Linked DNA regions of Homo sapiens. The protein of the gene in region 1 purifies or fractionates together with the protein of each later gene. This does not show direct contact. Each region holds a gene or a part of one and is shown in the gene's direction. Other genes may lie near its edges.

What was found. The genes of interacting proteins can lie anywhere in the genome.
Region 2: the proteins of ZNF45 (region 1) and DNAJC10 purify together in Homo sapiens (co-immunoprecipitation; one large-scale study listed by IntAct). This does not show direct contact.

Annotation. Positions count from the first base shown.
Region 1 is NC_000019.10:43,918,283-43,921,782, reverse strand, and holds part of ZNF45 (zinc finger protein 45), read left to right. Parts: intron 1-2,020; exon of another isoform or gene 2,021-2,083; coding exon 2,084-2,210; intron 2,211-2,820; coding exon 2,821-2,913; intron 2,914-3,500. UniProt on the Homo sapiens protein: May be involved in transcriptional regulation.
Region 2 is NC_000002.12:182,757,757-182,761,256, forward strand, and holds part of DNAJC10 (dnaJ homolog subfamily C member 10 isoform 1 precursor), read left to right. Parts: coding exon 1-69; intron 70-1,080; coding exon 1,081-1,134; intron 1,135-1,403; coding exon 1,404-1,551; intron 1,552-3,500. UniProt on the Homo sapiens protein: Endoplasmic reticulum disulfide reductase involved both in the correct folding of proteins and degradation of misfolded proteins.

The DNA of each region.
Region 1 (3,500 bases):
TTATAGTCCCTTGAATTGATGTTACTCTGTGGTGTGTATGTGAGATAACTTTTCTCCTCATTCATCAATGTTTAGGTAGTTTAGAATTTTTACTGAAAATTGTTACTACAGTTTTCCCACAAATAACCATTTTTTCCAAAAAGCAATTTGAAGGAGTTTTGCTATTATTTACTTTTAATGTTATAGAAACACTATATTGAAAAAGTACTTTTGATATGTGGTACTTTGGGTAGTTCCTATGTCAATGATTCAGATATGACATCGTGTGACATGATGCCACTGATTTTAGAGAAAATATTATTAGATATTTCCACAAAAGAAAGCTAGATTTTTCTTACCCAGGCCTGAGTTATACCCTATGTATGTTTACTTACTGATCCGTATTCTTTTACTCTTATGTTAACTTATTTTATTGAAGTAATAATGTACTTAATTTTAAAAGTCTAGCAGTACAAGAGGACTTACCAGATACTTCTCTTACTGTATTTATTCCTCAAACCAACTTTATGAGGCAGTCCTTGGTCTCATGTGCATTTTAATTACAAAGAAACAAGACTGTAGAATTGTGGAAAGTTGCTTAGTTTCACATAGGATACCAAAGATCCAACTGATTTCAAAAGACTCCAGGATTTTTACTTGACTGAAGAGAGAGAGGCAAAGAAAAAGAATTCTCCACTTAGTGGACCTGGCCCTTTTTGTGTGGGTGCCTAGCTTGTCCTGGTTAGTGGAAGATGCCTCAGCTAATACTGCCCCTACTCGATTCACTCTCCAGTGGCCTCTTCTTCTCTATGACCACTGTCATTCATTTAGGGTACCTGAATGTGCAGGGCTCCAGGGATGAACAGTCTTCATATGAAAAGTTAAAACAGTATGATAATGCTGGCCGAGCACAGTGGCTCACACCTGTAATCCCAGCAGTTTCTGAGGCCGAGACAGGTGGATAACTTGAGGTCAGGAGTTCGAGACCAGCCTGGACAAACATGGCTAAACCCCATCTGTACTAAAAATACAAAAATTAGCCTGGCATAGTGGCGCACGCCTGTATTCCCAGCTTCTCGGGAGGCTGAGGCACAAGAATCACTTGAACCCAGGAGGCGGAGATTGCAGTGAGCTAAGATCGTACCACTGCACTCCAGCCTGGGGAACAGAGCAAGGCTCTGTCTCAAAAAAAAAAAAAAAAAAACCAATACGATATGCTAGTGCTTCTTTATCATGGGTGACTTTACCGCCCACTGCCCCCCCCCCCCACCCGGCAACATCTGGAAACATTCCTGGTACCACAGGTCGGGGGTGCTACCAGCATCTAGTAGGTAGAAGCTAAGGGTGCTGCAAAATGCCCTACAGTGCCCTAGACACCCCCACACAGCAGACAACTATCCCGCCCAAGACAGCAATAGTGTTGAGTTTAAGAAACACTCCTGAACACAAAGCTATAAAACACCAGCAAAATGTAGGTGAACAACAACGTATATGCTAAAAAACGACTTAAAATCATCACTAGAAATTTTACAGAGTTATAAGATAAAATTCTAAATGGAATATCAATAAAAGGACAGTAACAGGTGAGATACCAAAGAAAAATAAAGATGTCCAGTAAATATACGAAAATATGATCTTACTAGTTAATTACAGACCAAAAAACCCAGTTGTTTCTTAATGAACAGATTGCCTAGGATTTTTTAAAAATTGGTTATATTCAGTGTTATCTATGGTATGGAAAATCAATGATACTTTATCTTGGGGGAAGGATAAGACAGGGAAAAATTGAAAAGAAAATCTGTCGTACATCATAATTTGGAAGTTGCATATTCTTTGACATTGTGATTTTTCACTTCTTGGAACTTACCTAAGAAAATAGGTGGGTAATATCTATGCAAAAAGTTGTTCTTTACAGCATTTATTATGAAAAGGAAAAACCTAAAATATAATACACTTTATATGTGTTTAACTGTAATAAAGTTGAATATGGTCTCTTAAGAATCTGACACCTTTCCCTACACATCTTTTTCACATTTCTCAGTGCTATCCCTTTTCCAGTGGACCTTTATTGCAAGATTTAGGTGGAGTGTGTTTGATGTTGTAGGAGGCAGTGACATTCAAGGACGTGGCTGTGGTCTTCTCTGAGGAGGAGCTGCAACTGCTGGACCTTGCCCAGAGGAAGCTGTACCGAGATGTGATGCTGGAGAACTTCAGGAATGTGGTCTCAGTGGGTGAGGACAGGCATTCTCTGACTGAACATTGGCTCCCTCTGTTGTCTCTCTGTCCTTGGGTATACAGGGCTTTGGAGCTCTTGAACTGGTTTTCAGTTTTCTAATCATCCATCATAAGACAGATATGGAATTTTTAAAGTCTTTCTCCCCTGGCAAAAGTGTGTATTTTGTTAATGAACCATAAATTGACAGCATGACAACTATACACTTTTATCCTTTCTCAAATTGTGGTCATCTCCAGTTAGTGGGTCCTGATATACATTTGATGAATTGTACCATTGGTTTTTTTAATGAAATAAAATGGGGTAGAAAATGTCAGAGCACTTGGCAATAACTGCACATTGCAGCAAAAACTATGTCCTGTTGCCAAGAAGAATGTGAGAGACAATGGAGGGGGTATGATGAAAACATTTTTTTTCCCAGTAATTTATACTTATATCTGCATATCTTGGGTCTTTGCATGAAATATACTTCCTCCAATGGGTCATGATTAGAAGTGTGGAAAACACTAAGTTTGATGTCCTGAAGACGATGAAATGAGGACAATAATTTTGAGTAATTTTGGCTTCTGATGTATTAATTATAAACCTATGTCCTTGCCTTTTCACAGGGCATCAGTCCACACCAGATGGCCTACCACAGTTAGAGAGAGAAGAAAAGCTGTGGATGATGAAGATGGCAACCCAGAGAGATAACTCCTCAGGTGAGGAGGGGCTGGGGCTGCTGGACATTTTTCTGTTAGCCTTGGAGATATTCCAAGGTTGGCAAACAAAAATGTGTGACGAAGGCATAGTCTAGAACAGTTTTTTTCCCCCTGATGAATATCTAATCTAATTCTAATTTATTGGGTGCTTTTGGATATATGAAGATCTGTATTCATTAACCCACTTAGTTTGCTCAGGATGCTAAAACAAAATACTACCGACTGGGGGAATTATAAACAACGGAATTTTATTTCTGACATTTCTGGGGGCTGGGAAGTCCATGTTCAAAGCACCAGCAGATTCAGTGTCTGCTGAGGGCCCACTTCCTGATCCAATGACAGCACCTTCTTTGCTGCGTCCTTACAGGGAAGGGGCAAGAAATCTCTCTCAGGCCTCTTTTATAAGGGCACTAATCCTATTCATGAAAGATCTGCCCTCATGACATAATCACCTTCCTAATGCCTTAGGAGTTAGGATTTCAGCATACAAATGGCAAGGGCACACACATTGAGACCATAACACTCACATCTAATGAAAGCTTAGCTTTAGTTGTAATCAAATTGAGTATCATTTCCCCCTTGTGGCT
Region 2 (3,500 bases), on another chromosome or scaffold:
GGAAAACGTTCAAAGATACCCTGAGATAAGATTTTTTCCCCCAAAATCAAATAAAGCTTATCATTATCAGTAAGTATTCTCTCATATTTGAAGACATTTATTATAATTATTTAATTATACACTTAACAGTTAAGTTACCTGAACAAAATAAAAGTTAACCCAACAAATATTTATTGGGAGCCCACTACGTAAAGATAGTTTGTTAATGAACATTTCAGAAGATGAAAAGGGAGTATTGAACAGTCTCACTGTGCATAAAGCTTATAGTCTAGACAAAAAGATAAGGAAAGGAAGAGCTAACATTTATTAAGTCCTTAAACACCTTATTTGGTTTCAGGTACTATATTAGATACTTTACTCACCTTATTTCCAATAATCCTCACATATGCTCTGTGAACTAGGAATTACTACCCTTCCTACTATTACAGAGAAGTAAACTGTGATTCTCAGACCTTAGAATCCAAGGTCTAGGAGTTATCTAAGGCTTAGATAACTTCCCCAAGTCACACAGCTGCTAAGTTGAAGTTGAGGTTTGAACCCAAGTCTGTCTCAGCACCCATGCTGTTTCCACAACACCACGTGGTATTTCAGGTAGAAAACTCAAATGTAAGGTACATATGATGAATGTTATTAAACAAGTAAAAATGAACCATGGATTTCAAGAGAGGAAAGGGTCACAACTATGAGGAAATTATGAAAGGCTGCATTTTGTAGGTAGTTTTTGACATGTGTCTTTAAAAATGGGTAGGAATTTGACAGACAGTAATAACTTGAATAAAGATTCAGAAACTAAAACCCTTGGACATTCTGAGTTTCGCAATTCCCATAGGTCTACAGGAGATGTCCAGTAGACAGCTAGACATTCTGGGCTGTCTGGGGCACAAAGATACCAAGACTAGAGAAAAATACATTTGTGAGGCCTTATAACCAGAATTTGTAGCTAGGTATATTTGAGAAGAGAGATACCAGATGAAATCAATCAATATAACTTATTTTTTAAATTGCTACAATAAGATTGTTTTCTGAATACATCCAATAATAGAGAATCCTATTTACAACTAACATTTTTTCTTCTCTCAGCAGTTACAATGGTTGGAATAGGGATGCTTATTCCCTGAGAATCTGGGGTCTAGGGTGAGTAATTAAAATATATATCATTGTATAAAATAGATTCAAAGCCATTTACCCCCCTTTTATATCAATAGTTAAATTTACTGTGGGTTAAGGTTCTAGCATTTTAAATTACTTAGTAAAGTATTATATTAACCAAGATAGTACTGTACTTTATTACATTGCCCTTCCTTGACATCATTTTTAACTTAGAAAGTATTACAATATTATTGCATTTCATATGTTTGCTTTGGTTTTATATAATGAAAAATGATTTTGATCATTTGCCACAGATTTTTACCTCAAGTATCCACAGATCTAACACCTCAGACTTTCAGTGAAAAAGTTCTACAAGGGAAAAATCATTGGGTGATTGATTTCTATGCTCCTTGGTGTGGACCTTGCCAGAATTTTGCTCCAGAATTTGAGCTCTTGGCTAGGGTAAGTCATACCTGTCTTAAATAAGTTGTAGCCACATTCATGTTTTAGTAATTAGATAAAACATTGTAAGTATGTAATTTTTAGGTTTTTTTCTTAAATGTTTCCTCTGAATTTAAAAATAGCTATTATATTTCTATGACTGTAATGGTTGTAGTAGATTTCCTCTTTCTTTGTTAAAGCTTTTAGCTAACATCTTCTCTATCTTGGTAGACATCATCATCTACTAGCCATAAAAGCCAGAAACGTCTCTTTCTTCTCCCTCTTGTCTACTTTCTCCTCCCCACCCCAGTACTCTGTTGCCCTCCAGGCAGTTACTAGATTGTGTCAGTTTTATCCCCTAAATGTCTTTCAAATGTCATTTCTTATTCATCTCTACTGCTAACCTGTTTCTTCAACCCTTTATCATCTCTTGTCTAGACTTAACCATATTTGCCTTTTAAGTGCAGTCTTCCCTTGATATACTCAGGGGATTGGTTCCAGGAACCCCCATTCCATACCAAAATCTGTGCAGCTCAGGCCTCACAGTGGGCCCTCTGTATGCAGGGTTTCACATCCTATGACTATTCTGTTTTCCATCTGCAATTGCTTAAAAAAAAAAATTCCCAGTTCAAGCAGTTCAACACAGTTCAAGCCTTTGTTGTTCAAGAGTCATCTATGGTATTATACTGTCTACCTTTGTCAGTGCTGCCCTGGTGATCTTCTAAAATATTTCCCTCTCTGACTTACTAAGTTTCTTAATATGCATACATTGACTTCAGGTGTCTGATATGAGCTCTATCTCTATTGTCCACCTCACACCTTAGATTCCAGTGTAACAGAGTACTCCAGGTTCTCTGAACATGTGTCCTTATTTACATGCCGCTCCCTCTCTCTAAAATGCTCTGTCCTTACCTTGGTCATCTGTATTTTTTCTCCTCTTACTGCAAAACTCAGCTCCGATGGCACTGCTCTATTCTCTGCCCTTCTCAGTTAATCAGTGTCACCTGGATATGTTATCAAGTGTACTGATACAGTGCATATTAATTCTTTATTTATTATTACTTGAAAGATATTTAATTTGACCAGAAATAAAAGGAGCTGGATACCAATGGAAATAATTAGTTGTAGCAATTTTGGGTTTTGTTCGGTTGGTTGGTTTTATTTTTCGGTATAGCATTGTCCATCTTCCTTTGTAAATGGCTGTCTCTTCCTGAGGGCAAAGTCCATGTTTTATTTATTTTTATATCCTCAGGGCCTAACTCAGTAAATGCTTATATAAAATTAAACTGAATACATACCCTCAATGCAGTCTGAGCTTTTGGTGTTTCTTTCTGTCGTAACAGTCTTATTAGTGACCTAATCCAGATTGATAGCTTTCTTGCCTCCATAACTCGAGGAACTCTTGCCACTAGTGTTGGTATAAAACACTCAACTGGAATGAGAAAGTCAGCTCCAGTTCCACCAGTTCACACTAAAGCTTAGCATCCCAGGCCATGGGAATTTTTTAGCAGAGGGATTTTAAAGGTCTTACTAGCTATAAAAGATTATTTTTGTTATTAGCTGGTGCATCAGATAAGAGGTTTATTCTTTCCATTCTAATCTTCTTATGCTTCCTTCTGTAATAATTCTGCTTTACTCCATTTCTCATGTACTAAAAACTTTAGTTATAAACTTTGTAATGCAACTCTATATTGTATCTAGTAGAAAATTATTAAACATGAAAAAGACCATTTATTCAACAAATTTTAAGTACCAAATGAAAAGCCATTATGCTAAGTAGTAGGGCCACGTAACTCCACATGAAAGAAAAGGAAGATGAAAAGAAAGAAATTCCATGTCTTTAAGGAGATTTTAATCTAGTGGAAAGAGAAAATGGAAATAAATATAAGTAATACAAGATAATTGCTACAGTAAAATTAGAATGAAGCTGGAACAGGGGTAGAAGGGTGTCAGTGATGCCAGAGAAGGAT